Linked DNA regions of Homo sapiens: region 1 is linked to region 2. Evidence: fine-mapped expression QTL. A gene starts in region 2. The other region holds a variant in brackets. All regions are shown on one strand. Distances are from middle to middle. Region 1 has its middle 14 kb from the start of MIR1587. Region 2 holds the start of LINC03053 (long intergenic non-protein coding RNA 3053).

What was found. PIP is the estimated chance that this variant, and not a neighbour inherited with it, causes the effect.
Region 1: its variant is fine-mapped to the expression of LINC03053 in whole blood (TOPMed, PIP above 0.99).

The regions. Positions count from the first base shown.
Region 1 is chrX:39,847,793-39,856,113 of GRCh38, reverse strand. No RefSeq gene overlaps it. Among named protein-coding and RNA genes, the nearest start is that of MIR1587, 14 kb to the right of the region's middle. RefSeq lists enhancers at 287-366, 637-756, 2,505-2,799. The variant G/A (reference allele first, on the strand shown) is at 5,173.
Region 2 is chrX:40,004,826-40,013,146 of GRCh38, reverse strand. LINC03053 (long intergenic non-protein coding RNA 3053) reads right to left here and starts at 3,897. Exons shown (of 2, transcript XR_007068218.1): 1 at 3,346-3,897; 2 at 953-3,129. RefSeq lists a silencer at 602-651 and enhancers at 383-1,106, 4,130-4,757, 5,977-6,913.

The DNA.
Region 1 (8,321 bases), 160 kb after region 2:
ATGAATGCACTGGCATGGCCCACGTCCGGCCCTGTTGCTGCTTGCTTCCAGTTCACGCGGCATTCTGTGCCGGGGAATTGCTGACCCAGATTCTGTTTTGCTGGGGGGGCAGAGGGAGCTGAGGGTGCAGTTTCCAGGTGCTCTAGGCCTGCCTCCCAGCTGAGACCCCACCTACTAGGTGTGTGCTCCTCCCCTTTCTTTAGGTACCAGGCACCCCTCCAGCTTCTATATATAGCACTCTGTGGCGACAGCTGGCTATCTGATGACTCATCAGTCACCGTGGGCGTCTCCGGATGGAACCCTGAACATTTATTCAGAGGGTGCTTTTGCCAGTTTCTGAACGACTCCTAGTAAGTCCTGCCTTTTGGGGATTGTTTTAACCCCATGGAGATTGGGGGTTTGAAGACTCAGTGGGTTCCTGTCTGAAGGCCTCTGGGGGCTTAAAAAGTCCAGTGGGGCTTTGGGGAACTGGCTCCAGGTAAGCCTGTGAACGCAGAGGAATGCATTCTCAAACTGAGGGCTTGAGTGGTCTCTCCTTGGTCATCTGTCCATCTAAGTACCTGGCTGGCCCCAGATTGCCCCTGGAAGTGGGGCTTGGGAGATGTTAGCTCCTTTCAGGAGCTGCAGGGCTCCTCCCATGTATTTTCTGTGGGGCATCAAAGACCCAGGGCTGGCTTTGGAGCTGGGTTTAATGTAGGCTGCTCTGCTCACCAACTCCACCATCCTGGGCAAGTCCCTTCTGCTCTCTGGGTTTCCGTTTCCTCCTCTGTGCAATGCAGTCAATACCATTGTGGCCGTCTGGTTCTGAGGGTTGGAGGAGGTGCCGTCTGTAACAACTGTTATTACTGTGCAGCCCAGGGGCCCCATCACTTCGGTTTTCTCAGAAGCAGCTTCTGAGACGCGGATTCGTGTGGAAGCAATTTATTAAGGAAGTGCTCCCAAGAAACACGGAAGGGTATGGAAGGGCAGGACCAAGAAGGGGAGGAAGCCAGTTTCAGACAAAGTCCCTCTGCAGAAGGGTCTTAGTCCATCCAGGCTGCTGTAACACGGTACCACACGCGGGGGGGCTGATAAACCACAGACACGTACTTCTCATGGTTCTGGAGGCTGAGAGGCCGAGATCAGGGTACCAGCACGGTCGGGTTTGGGGGAGGGCCCTCTTCTGGGCTGTAGATTGCCAACTTTTCCTTGTGCCCTCACATGGCAGAGACAGGGAGAGAGAGCTCTCTGGGGTCGCTTTTTATAAGGGCACTGACCCCCTTCATGAGGGCTCCATCCTCATGACCTCATGACCTCCCAAAGGAGGAGCTCTGGAGGGCAAGTGTCAACTCAGAGCCTGTCCTGACTCCAGGCAAGAGCACTGTACCTGCATGCTCCCTTGCACCAGCTAGGAGCTACCGTGAGTGTGGGGATTGAAACTCCTGGGTACTTCTGGCTCTGAGGGGGATGTGCCCCGGGCGGGCCTGCAAAGAGTCCCAGGCACAGGCTGTGGGAATTAGGAGAGGGGAAGCTATATGGGGTGGGGGAAGGAGCCCGAGGGGATGTGGGTGAAGCATCTAGAGTGTCCCCACCACCCCTTTGCTTATCTGTCCTCCCACCAGAGGGGGCCAGGCCAGCACCCCTGTATGGATGGGACTGGGGCCGGGGAAGGAGGCTGGAGTCAGGAGGAGAGGCACCACCCAGGCCTTACTCTTCATATGGGTGGAACCATCCCATGAACAAGTGGGATGAGGAAGCCTGAGGAGCTTTTGGCCAAGCTTAGCCTCTGGGGGTGCCCAACACTGGGCACGGATAGGGCTGGGGCACAGACCCAATATTCCAGTACCTCCAAGTCTTTTGTCCGGCACCCAGGCTAGGGGCCCTGAAGATGCTTCACTGTCCAGCGGGATGGGGTTGGGGAAATATTTTTGTTCTCTTCAGCTCAGTAGCCTTCTTCCTTCCTTTCATCACCTTGTCTAAGACTGGCCGGGTCTTTTCTCAAGGTCACCCCAGGAACCAGGGTTCCTTGGGTTCTGTCGCCAGCTCTGGGCACCTCTCCACCATGGGCCACCTGGCTCTTTCATTTTCTTACTTCCAACTTCCACCTTCTCTTCTGCAGCATTGAGCTGCTTTTCTCAGCCTCTCTGGACTTAAAGCAACTTGGCCCAAAGGCTGCCAGTTGCCCTTTCTCAACCCTCCAATGCTTCTGTGCCCTCTACCAGGGATGGGGCTGTGGAATCCAGAGCACACCCGGTTGCCTTCCCTAAATTTCCATTCACCAGCAAAGATGAGTTTATTTTCCACTGTCAGGAATTCAGAGTTTGAATGATTTTACCACTGCTCTGTTCTTGGTGCAGCTGGGATTCTATTTATCACTGGGTTAGGAATTTCACTTCCTGCCTTTTCCATCCCAGAAGAATTCTCTCCCCTCCCCTCCCTTCCTCTTCTCTCTTTCCCCCTTCTCTCCTTTCCTCTTTTCCCTTCTCCTCTGCCTGCTTTTCCATCCCTCTCCCCTTCTCCTCTCCTTCCCCACCCTCCTCTTCCCCCCTTTCCATTTTGTTCCCCTTCTCCATTCTCTCCCTTTTTTCTTCCCCCCTCTCCCCTGCCCTTTTCTGTCTCCTCTCCTTTCTCCCCTTCCCTTTTTCTCTCTTCCCCCTCCTCTCCCTCTCCCGCCCCTCCCCCACATACTGTTTTGCTGTCCTCAGGGTGACGGTGACTTAGGCCAGCCCTGGGGATGGGTGGGAGAGCAGCTGAGAATCCAAAGGCAGGAGAGTGCACAAAAAAGAGATATGTCGACAAGTGGCTAGGGACCATGTTCCTGCTTTAGCTACGCACTGTGTCAAGCGCTGAAAGTCACTACACAGGCAGTCATTATTATGATTTTTACCTTACAAAAAATGCTTCACCCAGGGCATGGCATCTACTTGGTATTCAGTAGCAGTCAAATTGGAAAAAGGAGGCTTTCAAAGAGTCATTAAGACAAACACTGTTTGAAAATTATACAGAAATTCTATTTAGCTATTTGAAAATGAAAGAGTATTATACTGTCTTTGTAAAAATGCTTTTTTTCCAGTTGCTCACTGATTTTTTTCCCCCCAGTTGCGGTGGCTGATTAGTGTTTTCGTAGCGTCTCTTCCAGTTCACCGCAGACCTGCTGTTCCGTGGAGTCTGGTGTTGCAAAGCTTGTTGCAAAGCTTGTGCTGAGGAACTGCGAGGGGTCTCTGGGAATCTCTCTCAGGTTGCCGGGACCAGAGAGCCATGTGTCTGGCTAATGTGACCATCCCTCAACAAGGGTACTGCTCACTGGATTTCTCTACACAGACTCCCCTCCTGAGGAACTGACTAGGCATGAAAGATCTCCCCCAAGAATTGTTTAGTGACAGCTTAAGCTAGGCTAGCCTCTCTGCCTCACTAAGCTCAGCTGAGGTCAGAGTGGTGGGGTGTGACGCCCGCAACTCCGGGCAGTTAACTCACACAAAGGGAAAACTCTCTCCCCACCTTGCCTACCTGCCTCCCTGCCTGTGGGCAATTTTGCCAATGTTTTCCATTAGTCACAAAGGAGAGGGGCAGGTGGGGGCAGGGTGGTCAGTGGGGACAATCATTACACAGGAAGAAAACCAAAACCATATTACTATCTAAGGCACTGTGCTAAGTGCTGGCATTAGGGTTGCATTTGGTGAAAATCCACATATAACACAGAAAAATCTATGAACCATCTAGAAATCCTAACTTCTTGACCCTTGAACTCCTTCTTTAAGAAGATCACTTGTTCATGGAGGGCTTCCCTGACCCCTGGGCAGGCTCCTTCCCCATTCTCTTGGCTGCTTCTGCCAGCACTTGGTGTCCTTTGCCTGAGGCTCTCTTTGGCTGCGTGAGTGGGCAGCCCTCCCTAACACCCTCAACTCTGACTGTTAGGATTCCGTAAGTAAATGCTCCAGCCTCCTCATCCTTCAGGAGGGATGATCTGAGGTGTGTTCCACACTGTCAACCAGGGGTATCCTGCAGGACCCAGCCCCATTTGCCCCAACAAATGCGGACAAATGGGTGGGAGCCTACTTATCAATACGGCCTCTGACTGCCCCCCTGGCTCTCTCTCCATGTCCTCATTGCCCTACTGATGCTTCCTGGAATCACCTCCCAAAGAAACTGCTTGCACACAAAACCTTGTATGCAAGACATTTGCAATCTAAATTAAGTCTCCCTGTTCTTTCTCAGGGCACTCCCCACCCCCAGCTTAATAGCACTCATCATGATATGTAATTATGCATTTGTTTGTGTATCTATTTGTTTAATGAGGGCAGAGACAATGTCTATTTTGTTCACCACTAAATCCCTGCACATCACTCAACCCAGAGCTTAACATGTGGTAGATGCTCAACGTAAATTCTGTTGAAGGAATGAATGTAACATCATTAGAGCTTTCTAATCTTTCACCCTTTGGGGTGGTTCAAAAACATGACCCCAAAGTTTCCTGACACTCCTTCCAATGAGAAGCGGGGTCCTTCTCTCCTTGAATCTGGATACGCTGGTGACAGCTTCAACTAAGAGAATGAAAGGGCTAGGTCATAAAAGGCCACACAGCTTCTGCCCTGAAGCCCTGAATAGCTGTCATGTAAGAACTCTGACTACCCTCAGCCGGCCATGCTGAGAGGAGGCCCAATTAATATGAAGGGACAACACATAGGTGCAGAGATCCATAGTCCCAACTGAGCCCAGTCTCCAAGTCATTTCAGCCTAAGTACCAGATGTGTGAATGAAGAAGCTTCTGGATGATTCCAGCCCCCAGCTCTTTTCAAGTCTTCTCAACTGAGACCCCAGACATTGTGGAGCAGAGAGATCCACAATGCTTTGGCCCGTCCAAATTCCTGACTTATGGAAACTTCGAGCATAATAAAACCGTTGTTAAGCTGCTAAATTTTGGAGTAATTTGTTATGCAGAAATAATTGGAAGACCTTGATTGTGAGTTTATTAATTCTGCATTTATTTGAAAGTCATTTATCAAGTTCCTACTATGTGCCAGGTGATGGTTACACAGTAGCAAACAAGGGAAAGATCCCTACCTTCCGGGAACTTACAATCTAGGGGCTGCTGTTGTAACTGTATCTTGCAAAAGCCTACATGTTGCTTTTTAACAATAATGAGTAGGTTTTTCTGAAACCACTTCCAGATGGTGTGGGGGGAGGGGTGCTTCC[G/A]GAGTGAGTTGCTAAGGGAAGCTCCAGGGGTAGGTGGATTAGATAACACAGACCCAGGGAGCTCTATTATTTGCTGGCTGTCAACCACCACTGTCCTGCAAATCATCCACAGACTAGCTGCACCCCCACACTAAGGGGGAGAGATTAGGGAAGCTGGGAGGTGCCATCCTTGAGGCAGAAGGAGAGGGGAACTGCTCCCCGCAGGCCCTGGAAAAGAGATGGTGCCTGCCTCTTGGAGGAAGATGGCATTGGCTTGTCCAAAGCTGGAGTAGGAGGACTTAAGAAAGCTGAGGCCACTGGCTGGCACTTCAGCTCCCTTATCTGACTCCGGGAGGCAGGTCTGGAATCAAAGTTGCCCCTGTGTGTCCAGACGTGCCTCACTCATGAACATGATTTTATGCCCCTTATGTTTCTGCTCCTCCTTCATTCTTTAACAAAGCAAGACATTTTTATCTGCCTGTCTCGACTCTGCTAAGGTGAAACAAAGAAAAGGACTCTGTCCTTTGAAGGACTAGTCATGAAGGGTGTTTTCTCCTAGGGGTGACCTTTGGTATCAAGGTACAAACTGCAAGAGGAAGGGGAATTCCAGGAGGAAAGTTTGGGTGTTTAGCGTCTCATGTCTGCCTGGAGCTTTTCCATCCTGGAAACCTGCTTTTGTTTAACCCTGGAAGGTTCTGGGGCCTATACAAGGAAGGGCGGCCATGTTAGGGACACTGTTCAGTAAAACAGGACCCACCTCTCCCAGCGGCTGGTGATAGAAGTGGAGTCAATGCAGACAGGCTGTGAATTGGGCTGTTTTTGTGTCAGTATAAAGAAATACCTGAGATTGGGGAATTTATAAAGAAAAGAGGTTTCATTGGCTCTTGATTCTGCAGGTTGTACAGGAAGCATGGTGCTGGCATCTGCTTCCGATGAGGGCCTCAGGGAGCTTACAATCATGGTGGAAGACGAAGGGGAGCCAATGTTTCACATGTTGAGAGTGAGAGCAAGAGAGAGGGAGGGGAGGCAGCCACACACTTTTAAACAACCAGATTTTTTTTTTTTTTTAGATGGAGTCCTGCTCTGTTGCCCAGGCTGGAGTGCAGCAGCGTGATCTCGGCTCACTGCAACCTCCACCTCCCAGGTTCAAGCGATTCTCCTGCCTCAGGCTCCTGAGTAGCTGCGATTACAGGCGCGTGCCACCATGCCCGGCTAATTTTTGTATTTTTAGTAGAGGCAGGGTTTCACCATGTTGGTCAGGCTAGTCTCGAACTCCTGACATCGTGATCCACCCGCCTCGGCCTCCTAAAGTGCTGGGATTACAGGCGTGAGCCACCCTGCCTGGCCTAAGCAACCACATCTTGCATGAACTAACTGAGCGAGAACTCACTTATCACTGAAGGGATGGCGCTACACCATTCACGAGGGGCTATTCCCATGATCCAATCACCTCCCACCAGGCCCCACCTCCAACAGTGGGGATCACATTTCAACATGAGATTTGGAGAGGACAAACATCCAAACGATATCAGGCTGAAAACACGGCTGGCACTTGAAACTTTAGAGAAGTCACCTTTTCCCTGGGCTCCTCGCTCTGGTCTCCCTGAGACTGTCACAGCGGCTTCATAGGTGCTTCGAGTTTCTTTGCCACCCCCTGATCAGGCCTTCTGTGTTTTGTAGTAGTCGCCTTCCCAGATTTATTGAGTAGCTCAGCTGAACCAAGGTCTGAGCATTCAATTAGGTCTTGTTATTCATCCGTTCACCAAATATTTAGTGAGCCATGTGCCAGGCACATTTCTAGCTGCTGATACAGCTGTGAACAAGACAGATGAAGCCCTTGCCCTTCGTGGAGCTCACATTTTAATAAATAGTTTGGAGGCGGACAAAGAGAAAATAAACAGAGAAACACGAACCTGGAGCATTTGGCTCACAACTTAGAGTTGACTCATCTTCAGTTTGACGTCCCTCCTGCTACGAGTTCCTGGCTAACTGACATCTCTTCTCCTCAAGCAGATGCTAACTTTGAGCCCTACCACTGGTGAGTGCCCCTAAAGGCTCACACCTGTGATCCCAGCACTTTGGGAGGCCGAGGTGGGCAGATCACTTGAGGTCAGGAGTTCGAGACCAGCCTGGCCAACATGGTAAAACCCCATCTCTAGTAAAAAAAAAAAAAAAAGACACAAAAATTAGTTGGGAGTAGTGGCTCATGCCTGTAATCCCAGCTACTGGGGAGGCTGAGGCAGGAGAATCGCTTGAACCTGGGAGGAGGAAGTTGCAGTGAGCCAAGATCACGCCACTGCACTCCAGCCTGGGCAACAGAGCAAGACTCTGTCTAAAAATATATATATATATATATATATATTCCAGCTTCAAGATGTCCTGGCACAAGAGATCTAGATCCATGTTCTCTCTCAGTTGGCTAAGGTCCACTTTCTGAACACCAGTAGGGCCACTTTCCACTTCCAGACGTTTTCTTCCCAAGTGATTGATGGAACAGGTGACGTCATCCTCAGAGCACACCCTGTTCGTTACCACTAACCCTGACCTCTACGGGATAACATTGGCAGGGACCTTCCTACACTTACTTTAGTAACAGAGATAGATTGCTTTATCACTGGGAGTTTCCTTATTATTTTAAAAATAAGTTAGTGTTTTGGAGGAGGAAATAACATTTCCCCGAGATTTAGGGGAACACTGCAGCTAACAAGGCCCTCTGAAACGGCACCAAACAGAAGAACATGTTAAGACACTATCCTTATTAGGATGGTGGGGCGCTTCCTCTGTCTCGTGGTTAATTCCGGGCGCTTCTCTCCTTCAGATTCCTGACTTCCTCTGGTAAGCCCCTCTGGATTAACCTGTCACACTCTGTCAGTCCTGACACAGGCAGCTCTCTGTGTCCAGGTCCTGGTGGCATTATATTATCTCCAACTTCGGAGTTGCACTATTTATTTTCCATCGAAAATTAGACCAGGAGCTTCACCGAGGTAGGGGTCGGGATTTATTTCCTTGACAGATTTCCCATCTTCTAGTGTCTAATTTACAACATGTGCAGGGCATGCCCTCCAAAACTTGGTAAGTCCTTAGCCAAACCATTTTGAACTCCCCATGTGACAGCTGAGTAACCCTTCTTATCCCTCTCTCCTTCTTCATCATCACCCCACCTTTTGCAA
Region 2 (8,321 bases):
ACCGCACTCCTGCCCGGGGCGAGGAGCCGACTAGCCGAGCCCGACCAGGCTGGGCGGCCGAGAGCGGCCTTGGCCGGAGAAGCTGGGAGGAAGGGCTGGCTGCGCGACTCCGGAAACCCCCTTAAGGTCACCGGGCGCGGGGAAACCGCCAGCCCACACCAGAGCAGAGGCCACTGCACCAGTCGGGACCAAGCCGCAGGTCTCCACATGGCCTCTGCTCTGGGGTATGCAGTTCTGCAAAGGAAACCCAGAGGTTGCGATAGAAGACGTAGCGCGGAGGCCACCACTGGTCCCAACACTGTGTCTTCCACCAAAGGGGTGCCGTTTCGCTCGGCCTTGGTACTCACTCTGTGAGCGATGGAGGCAGGGCATCCTCGAGTCTCCCGCACACGTGTGCGTGTTGTGTGTGTGTGTTGGGGGGGTGGCTAGTGTACGTGTATAGGCTTATGGGGACAATAAAAGGAGTGGGGTGCTTTTGGCAGCCGCTACGTTTCTTTCCGCTGAGACTTGAGAGGCCAGGGAGCAGAGGCGGCCAGCCGAGTGGGCGAGAGCCCGGCCTGACGTGGGGAGGAGACGTCTTCTCGTCGGGAGGCTAGGTAGCGTGCGCCCTCTTCCCTCCCGTCCTCTCCCCGCGCCGCGCCGCGCCGGCCGCAGCCGGCAGGCTCGCTCCTCTGCCCGGTGTCTGTTTAACCCTCAACCCCTCCGCGGCAGCTGCGGGCAGAGGGATTCCTGGCCGCGCTAATCCTGGGGCTGGACCCCAACCCTGGTCGCCTGGAGCGCCCTTAGCCCTCCCGAACCTCGGGCCCGAAGGTCCCAGGGTGCCGGCACTCCCGCCACCCAAACGGGCCTGGGGGCCGTCAGGGGTCGACAGAAGGGGACCCTTGGCAAGGTCCCCATTGTTCCCCCGGGGCTGGGAAGCTGACTCACGCTCTGAGCACAGAGCGATGCGGAGTGTTTTCTCGGTAGCCTTTACCCGAGTGCTTTATTTAGACAGGCTTTATTTACAGTACACATGTTTTCGGCTCGTTATTCTGGAGGCGGGAATGGAAACTGGGCAGAGCAGGAGTTCTCCCCGTCAGCCTCACGTTTGGAAGGAGTTGAGAGTCAGCCGAGTCGAAGGATCCCGCTCCTGCTTGCTGTGTTCTCTAGGGAGATAATGTCGAAGAAAACAGTGAAGGGGTGGGAGTGGAGGGCGCTGGGGAACACAGAGCGTCAGCCTCTCCCATAGTGCCCACGCTTCAAAATGCATAACACCCAGAGGAAGGTGAGACATCCTCATGCCCATTTTAGAGGGTTCAGAGAGGGCAAGGGCCGCAGAAGGTCACACAGACAACAATCGGTTGTGCGAAAAGGGTCTTTAACTCCATTTCTTGGGCTTCCTCACGGGTTTAGACCTCCAGGATTACCCAGGTCTTGGTCTCTCGGGATTCCGGGAAGGGTCTTTCCTGGCGCCTCGAGTGGAGGTCAAGGCCAGCCAGGCGACTGGAAGGCCTCTGGTTGCCAGTCTGCAGTCAAGCATCCTTTTTGGCAGCGGCTCAGTAAGTGGGGTGGTCTGGTTAGGGACTGCAGGAAATTGTCTGAGCTAGATTAAATATTTTACAAAACCTTCGGGGGGCCTACGGTTGACTTGAAGCTGGCAATGTTAAACCAAACAAAAGTTAACGAGTTCTCTCCTGACTTTTTAGGTACAGTTCAGAGAAAACGGTGGGTAGCGCTCTTTAGAGGAAGCAAGTTTAATAGCGTTTCCTCTCATTTTTCTCCGTATCATTCTCTCTGCTGCTTGTAGAGCCTCATAGCCTCTCTGGGGCTGGGGTGGCAGAAAGGCCTCTTCGGGGTCCCTCTTTGAAAGGGCTGCAGCCGACTTGAGCTCCTGCGGCCACTGAATTCCATGCTTCTGACTCCTGCTTGGAGTAAAGTGCAGCCTCACCGGAAGTGCATGGCCCTAGGAACTGCACAGGACACAGTGCAGACACCTGAGGCCTCTTCTGGCCTTCCCCTAGGGCAACCCACGGGGTGGGAGGAGAAAGGCCTACACTTCAGGACTCACGACCTAGTAACAGCCTTTTCCTCGTTTTCTCTCCCTCTTTTGAGTCTTTAGCTGCAAATCCTGCACTGCTTTCTGAGGGTTGTCCTCAGTGTTTCCCTCCCTGAATCGCACACCCTTTTGTCCCTGCCTCCTGGCTTGAGTGTGACTGCTCCCTTGCACGATGCCCACCCCATTCCCATATTCAAGTTGCAGTGTAGAAGCTCTGCAGGCCAGAACTGAACTGCGGCCCTGCGAGAGAAGGAGGCAGCTTGACCTTTGCAGGAAGGGAAGAGAAGGCAGATTCACAGCTCGCAGCGCTGCAGGGAGACACAGAGATGCAGGCGTTGTCACAGCACCAGCAGCTCTAAGGGGAGCCTGTAAGAGGAAACCAGCTCCAGGAGGCGAGGGAGCTTCTGTGCGGAGTGTGTGCCCCAGCGAGATGCACAGGCCGCGCAGTGAGAGAGGAACTGCCTGGGGGAGCTGTGGCTGCTGCCAGCTCAGCGCAGTGTGGGGGTGGGATGGGGGCTCAGAGAGGCTGGGGGGCTAAGATTAGGGCTGCCGTGGAGGATGGGGCCTCTGGAGAAGACAATAACTAAAGGAAGCTGCTCTGAAGAGGCCAGACCACCTGCGTATGGCTCATCAGATGGGGGGCAAGGTCCCAGCAGCTTAGGAAAGTATGCCCTAGGAAAGATAGATTTGCCAAAGGACACAGAGACTGGAGCTTGGTTGGGTTTTTACACATTAATTTTTGGGGGTGGCATCTTTGAGACAGGACCTTCCTAGGGAAAAATAGAGAGCCCTATACTTCTAAATCCCAGGGGATCCCAGGCGCAATGAGCTACTCAGCGGGCAGCCCAGGCCCACCTAGGGTTTGTGTCCGGGCAAGGGGCTCCAGAGCGTGCAGCCCACATAGGTCCCTAACCAGGCTTTGGGGGAGGGGGTGGGTAGTGAAGGGGTGTGCCCGCTGTATATAGAGGCAGCTGCCATTTGAGGGTGGAGGTGGGGAAGGTGATGCCTCAGCTTCGGCGCTGGAAACCATTGTTTGAGTCTGCACCCAGCGCTTCTCCAGCAGGGCTAATTCTCCACGTGTCCAATTTTCGTGTCTGAAAAAAAACAGCAGCACAGAAACAAAACCATATGACAGGACTGGGCTGCAAACCTTGAAGAATCGAGAGGGTGGCGGAGGTTGCGGCTGGGAAGGGGGAGGGTAAATGTGTGTGTGTGTGTGTGTGTGTGTGTGTGTGTGCCTGTGTGTGTGTGTTGGGGGCGGTGGGGTGGCGCACAACTCAAAGTTTCGGCTATTTCCTACCCGATCTCACCTCCCGGCGTGCTCATCTGATGCAGTTCCAACTCCCTCAAACGATTCCGCAGCCCCAGCGCTTGCGGGAGTGTGGAATTACAGTCTGGAAGAAGCGAGGCGCTGCCGCGAGAGGCGACGCACCGAACCCGGGAGTGCGGAAGCGCAGGCCGGCAGCAGCGCGACCCCTGGGCAGCCTCTGGGCCGCGGTCAGCCCCTGCGGCTCCGTCCTCCTGCCGGTCCCGAGCGGAGAGATGGGTCAACGCAAACCCTCAGCAGGATGGGGGGAGGGGAAAGAAGGGAGACAAGGCTTTTCCCAGAAAGCGGAGGGGAACTCGCTTCCCATCTCCGAGGCGCGATGATGCCCCCATCCCCCGCGCCCCGACCTCCCTGAGATTCGTTTCCTTAAAAAATAGCCAAAGGCCAAACATTTAGCTACGGGTTGAGTCTTCTTCCCACCCCCACCCGGTGCCCTCTCTGAGTTCTCTAAACCCACGAGGCGCTTTAGGCCTGGCGTCCCCCGCCCTCCCCCGCTTCCGCCTGTGCACGAGCCAGTGGCGGTCACTTCTGCGACTCTTTGGAGGCCGACGGCCAGGAGCTTTGTTCTCCTGGGGCTTCCTGCCCCTCCCCCCTCCAAGTCATCCCGGTTTCCACACTTTATCTGCGCCCCCCCTTTGACGTCCGCGCACACAAACAACCCGGGCCTATAATCTCATTAGCATAGGTCTCGGTCTGGGTGACCGCGAGGCTCCCTGCGCGCCCGCGCGCAGCGCTCTGTTTCGCTGCAAGCCGGAGTTTCCACCATGCATGCACCCGGGGCGGGGGGCGGGGACGTTCCGGGTGACAGTGTTGGCTTTGGGGCAGGCCGGGAAGAGGAGGCCGCCCGGGGCAGCGGGAGCCGCGGGAGGAAGGCCCCTCCCAGCGCCCAGTTGCCTTGGTCCCCGGAGCAGATGGCAACTTTGTCTCCTGGTGTGCGCGCAGCGACTTTCAACACATTGAAAAAGCAGTGCTCAGGCTGTCGGGGAAGCCTCGCTGACATTCAGAACCGATTAAAGACCCGAGACGGTGCCAGGCGCAGTGGAGAGTTATGAATTAATCATGGGGGTTACCGATATCTGAGGCTCCCCAGGGCAGTCCTTCTATTATAAGCAGCCCCCACTGCCCACTCCTGACCCGCTCCCCCCTCCCCCGCCGCCGCAAAGGGGTAGTCGCGGCGTCTTTTGCACTGCCCCAATTAACAGCCACGCGGTAATGTGAAAAGTGTTTGCCCTGCCACCCTCAGTGCGGTCTCAGGCCGGGGCGCTGGGCCTGCCAGACGCTCGCGGAGCAGCTCAGTCTTTGGGATAGGCCCGGAATGAGCTCTGTGCTCTGACCCGGGTATGGGGTGGAGTGATGCTCGTTCTCTGCCTCTGTGGCCCAGGTTCAGCTCCCTTCACCACCGTAGAAGGAGGCCCTAGATAGTGGGCGACGTCGGGGACCACCTACAACCTGGGTGCTTGTTTTGGGTCCCCAGAGCAGCTACAGGCTCGTGGTTTCGCGTTGTGGCTCTGGCGATGTTCCAGATATGGAAAAACGAGGTTCGTGTGTGCCGTGGAACTCCGCAAAGTCCCTGGGCCTCCTAGGAGGAACCCCCATGTCTGGAGTCACCCTAAATGACCCGCACCCCTGGGAATCGAGGCACACATCTCGACCACCGAACTTGCCGTTCTGCGTATTGTTAAATCACGCACACCGTTCTAATCTCCCCTATTTATTTCCCAGGCCTGCCTGGCCACAGATTTCTGCAAGACGGAGCAGGCTTCGGGTTCCTCCTGCTTCCAGAGGGGCCATAAAAAACAGATGGTCTCATTAGGAACAATTTATGCATATATATTTCGAAGAGTTCAGCAGAGCCGGCGTAGGTTTGCAGCCCCTGCGTCAGGCAAGAGCAAAATATCACCACTTGCAAATGTTTCCAGTTTGCAAAATAATGGCCTATCCAAAGTAGCTAAGCAACGAATTACTCAAACACTAGAAGGTTAGATGCCAATATTATCACATTCGTCCTGTTCCTTAAACCGTCCTCCTCCGCGGTCTTTGGATTTCGGATGGAGGCTCCTGGGCCTCACACCCCTACGCCCGCGGCTTCCTTTCATGACTATTTCCAATCTCCAAGTCAAATCACTTATTAATTATAGAGGCAACTCGAGCAAACCCAATTACCCGTAGGCAGCCCTTCCCAGATGGGAAGTCTGTCTCGCACGGCTCCCACGGTGGCCCAGTTTCTTCTGGGGAGGTTTCTTTTGCGTCCGATTTCTTTTTGTCAGTGGTCCGCCAGCGGCCCTGAATGTTTCCTCTGCCTGATTCTTCTTCCTAGAGGCAACTCCATTTTCTTACCCTGTTCCCTTTCCTTCTTCCAAGGAGACATCCCCGCCCCTTAGGAGCCGCTGCCTTCGGGCTAAATTTACCGCCGCGCCAAGTTTAAGCCTTAGGCGTTGCAGATCTGGCGTAGGAATGGCGGAAGCTGTAGACAGAGCCCTATTCATTTGCAAAGGCGGAAGGCAGAGTGATTCGCTCAGTTGGCTGCCCCTCGTCTCGTCTGTCCTCCCTTCAGACGTAGCCGGTGGCTTAGGTTCACCTCGGTTTGTGGGATGTGTCCTAGGACTCCGCGAGGCTTACCCCTGGTGGGAAAAAGCCTACTTCACTTTTAATGTCCTCACAGTTCTGGCCATATGGTAATAATAATGCTAACCACCAGGACTTTGTGCTAAGCATTTGACATATAACTATATCTTCTTTAAACCTCGTAGCCACACTTATACGAATATCCCTCCCATTTTGTAGATAAAGAAACTGAGGTTAAGAAACTGGCCTCAAATCACACAGTTAGTTGAAAATGAAGCCCTTAATCCAAAGCCTGAGTTTGCATTCACAGCGCCAAAGACACCTTCCAGAAGAGTACAAACCATAGGGGGCGGTTGGGGGCCTGTTTGCTTGCAGCAAAGGACGCCTGGGAGCGCAAAGGCCTCGGAGGTTGCAGTCAGGAGGTCTAGGCGTCGAGCTGCGAATAGCAAAGCACGCCGGCGGGACTCCAGGGAAACAGGCACACCTGGGATTTGGGGCGCTAGGGGAGCTGTGCTGGCTAGGGGCAGAGTTTTGGGGTGAAGCGCGGCTGCTAGAGTCTTGCAGCGCGTGGAGCTGGGTACTGCCACCCTTTCGCTACCGCAAAAGTCGCTTCCTCGGCTGTGGTGCCCTTGGGACGCGCTGTGGGGTGCGGTGGGCTCGCCTTGGCGATCTTGAGGGTGTGCAGGGTGCGGGGAGCCTCGGGAGGGTCCCCAGGGGTAGTTGGCCTCGGTCGCGCTGCCAGGGCACCCTCGCTAATATGGAGCCAGCAGTTCCGCGGAGGAGGGGAGGGGAGGAGAGGAGAGGGGAGGAGAGGGGAGCCGAGAGAGGGATGCGCGGGCGAGCTGGTAACCGTCTGCAGCGAGGAGTGTAATTGCCCCTGTGACCGCGGGCGACGAAGGCGGGGCGCTCGCCTGGCCGCCTCCCTCCCACTCCGCCAGCGGCGCGGAGCTGGCTTTTGGCCGAGAAGGCGCGGAGCACCTCCAGGGCCTGGCCGGCTCAGCGCTAGGCGAGGCCACTCCTAGCCCTCGCCGCTTGGACAGCTGTCCCCGGCGCTCCAGCCTGGGGCCTTCCACAGCGCGGGGCCCACTTCCCTCTGCCCCCAGGCCAGTTCAGGCAGCAGCCTCCCTCTTCTTTAGGGTGCGCCCTGGCCGGGGCCTGGGGCTGTCAGCTGCGCCCTGGTGACCCCGCCGCCTCCTTCCCTGGAGAGCGGCGTTGAGGGGGCGAGGCGGCCACCCTCGGATGCCAGGTGGCTTATGTGACCCTCCACCCCACGCCCTGGCCAGGGCGCACCCTGAAGCCGGTGCGCTTCGGGTCGCCCTGGGCCACCACAGATCAGCAAGGCCGACCTCGGCTGCGCGGCACTTGGCCGTGGGTCCCAGGGTCAGAAGGTAGAAGGGCCGTCGGGGCAGTCTCTGCGCCCCCGGATCTCCCCGCGCTTTCGGCGTGTGAGCTTTGTCCTTTGGTGGGGCTCCTGGCCACGGGCCGAACGGAGGGGGCCGGGCCGGAGGTGGGGAGGGAGGCCGAGGCCGGCCAGGGATTCCGGAGTTTGTAACCCGTGTAGTTTCTGGCTTTCACGGCTCGTTTGAAATCCTCCCACAGGAAGATGTCTGCCAAGGAGGCCTGCGCGGCTCGGAGCCCCGCGCGGCCACCCGGGTGTGTGAGTGTGCGGTGTGTGTGTGTGTGTGGATGTGTGTGGATGTGCGTGCCTGCGCCCGCTATTCCCGGGAGGGGAGGGAGAGCCAGCGCCGGCACTTTCCCGGCGGCAGCGCTGCGAGAGTGGCGTGCGGCGCAGGGCCTGGCACCCAGGGCTCGCCCGCGCCCCGGGCTCGGCCCCGCCGGCACCCCGCGCCCCTCTAGCGCCTTTCTCCCTGCCCCCGCGGCAGGAACTGTTAACCCAGGCAGGTGACGGCGCCCCGGCGCCCGTCGTGCGTTGGTCTTTATACCTCGTGAGTTCAACACTAATGAGTTATGGGTTGGCCCACGAAAACATAATGTGTAAATTAGGAATTTAATGATGTGTAAGATTAAAAGCTGCGCAGGGTTGCATTTATTTAAGGCTGCCATCTTGTGTTCGCAGAGAAATTACTTGAACGACATTGACCCCCCTCGCCCAGAGGACTGGAAATGGCGCGGGGGCGGGGGTGGCTTGTGGGGTTCCAGGCAGTGGGACTTGAGGCCCCTCGGGGCTGTTGTAGGGTAGGAGGGAGCCCTGCGCGCGGGCTGGGACTGACTTTGGGTGGTTGCCTATGCAGGAAGCCTGTAGAGCGGCAGATTAAGACCCCTCCCGCCCCATCCTCTTTCCTGGGTCCAGGATTGGCAAGACTCGGGGTGGGGGGGTCGTCAATTCTTGGAAAAGTTATTGCTCCAACCTGTCTTGATGCCCTTCGTACTTTG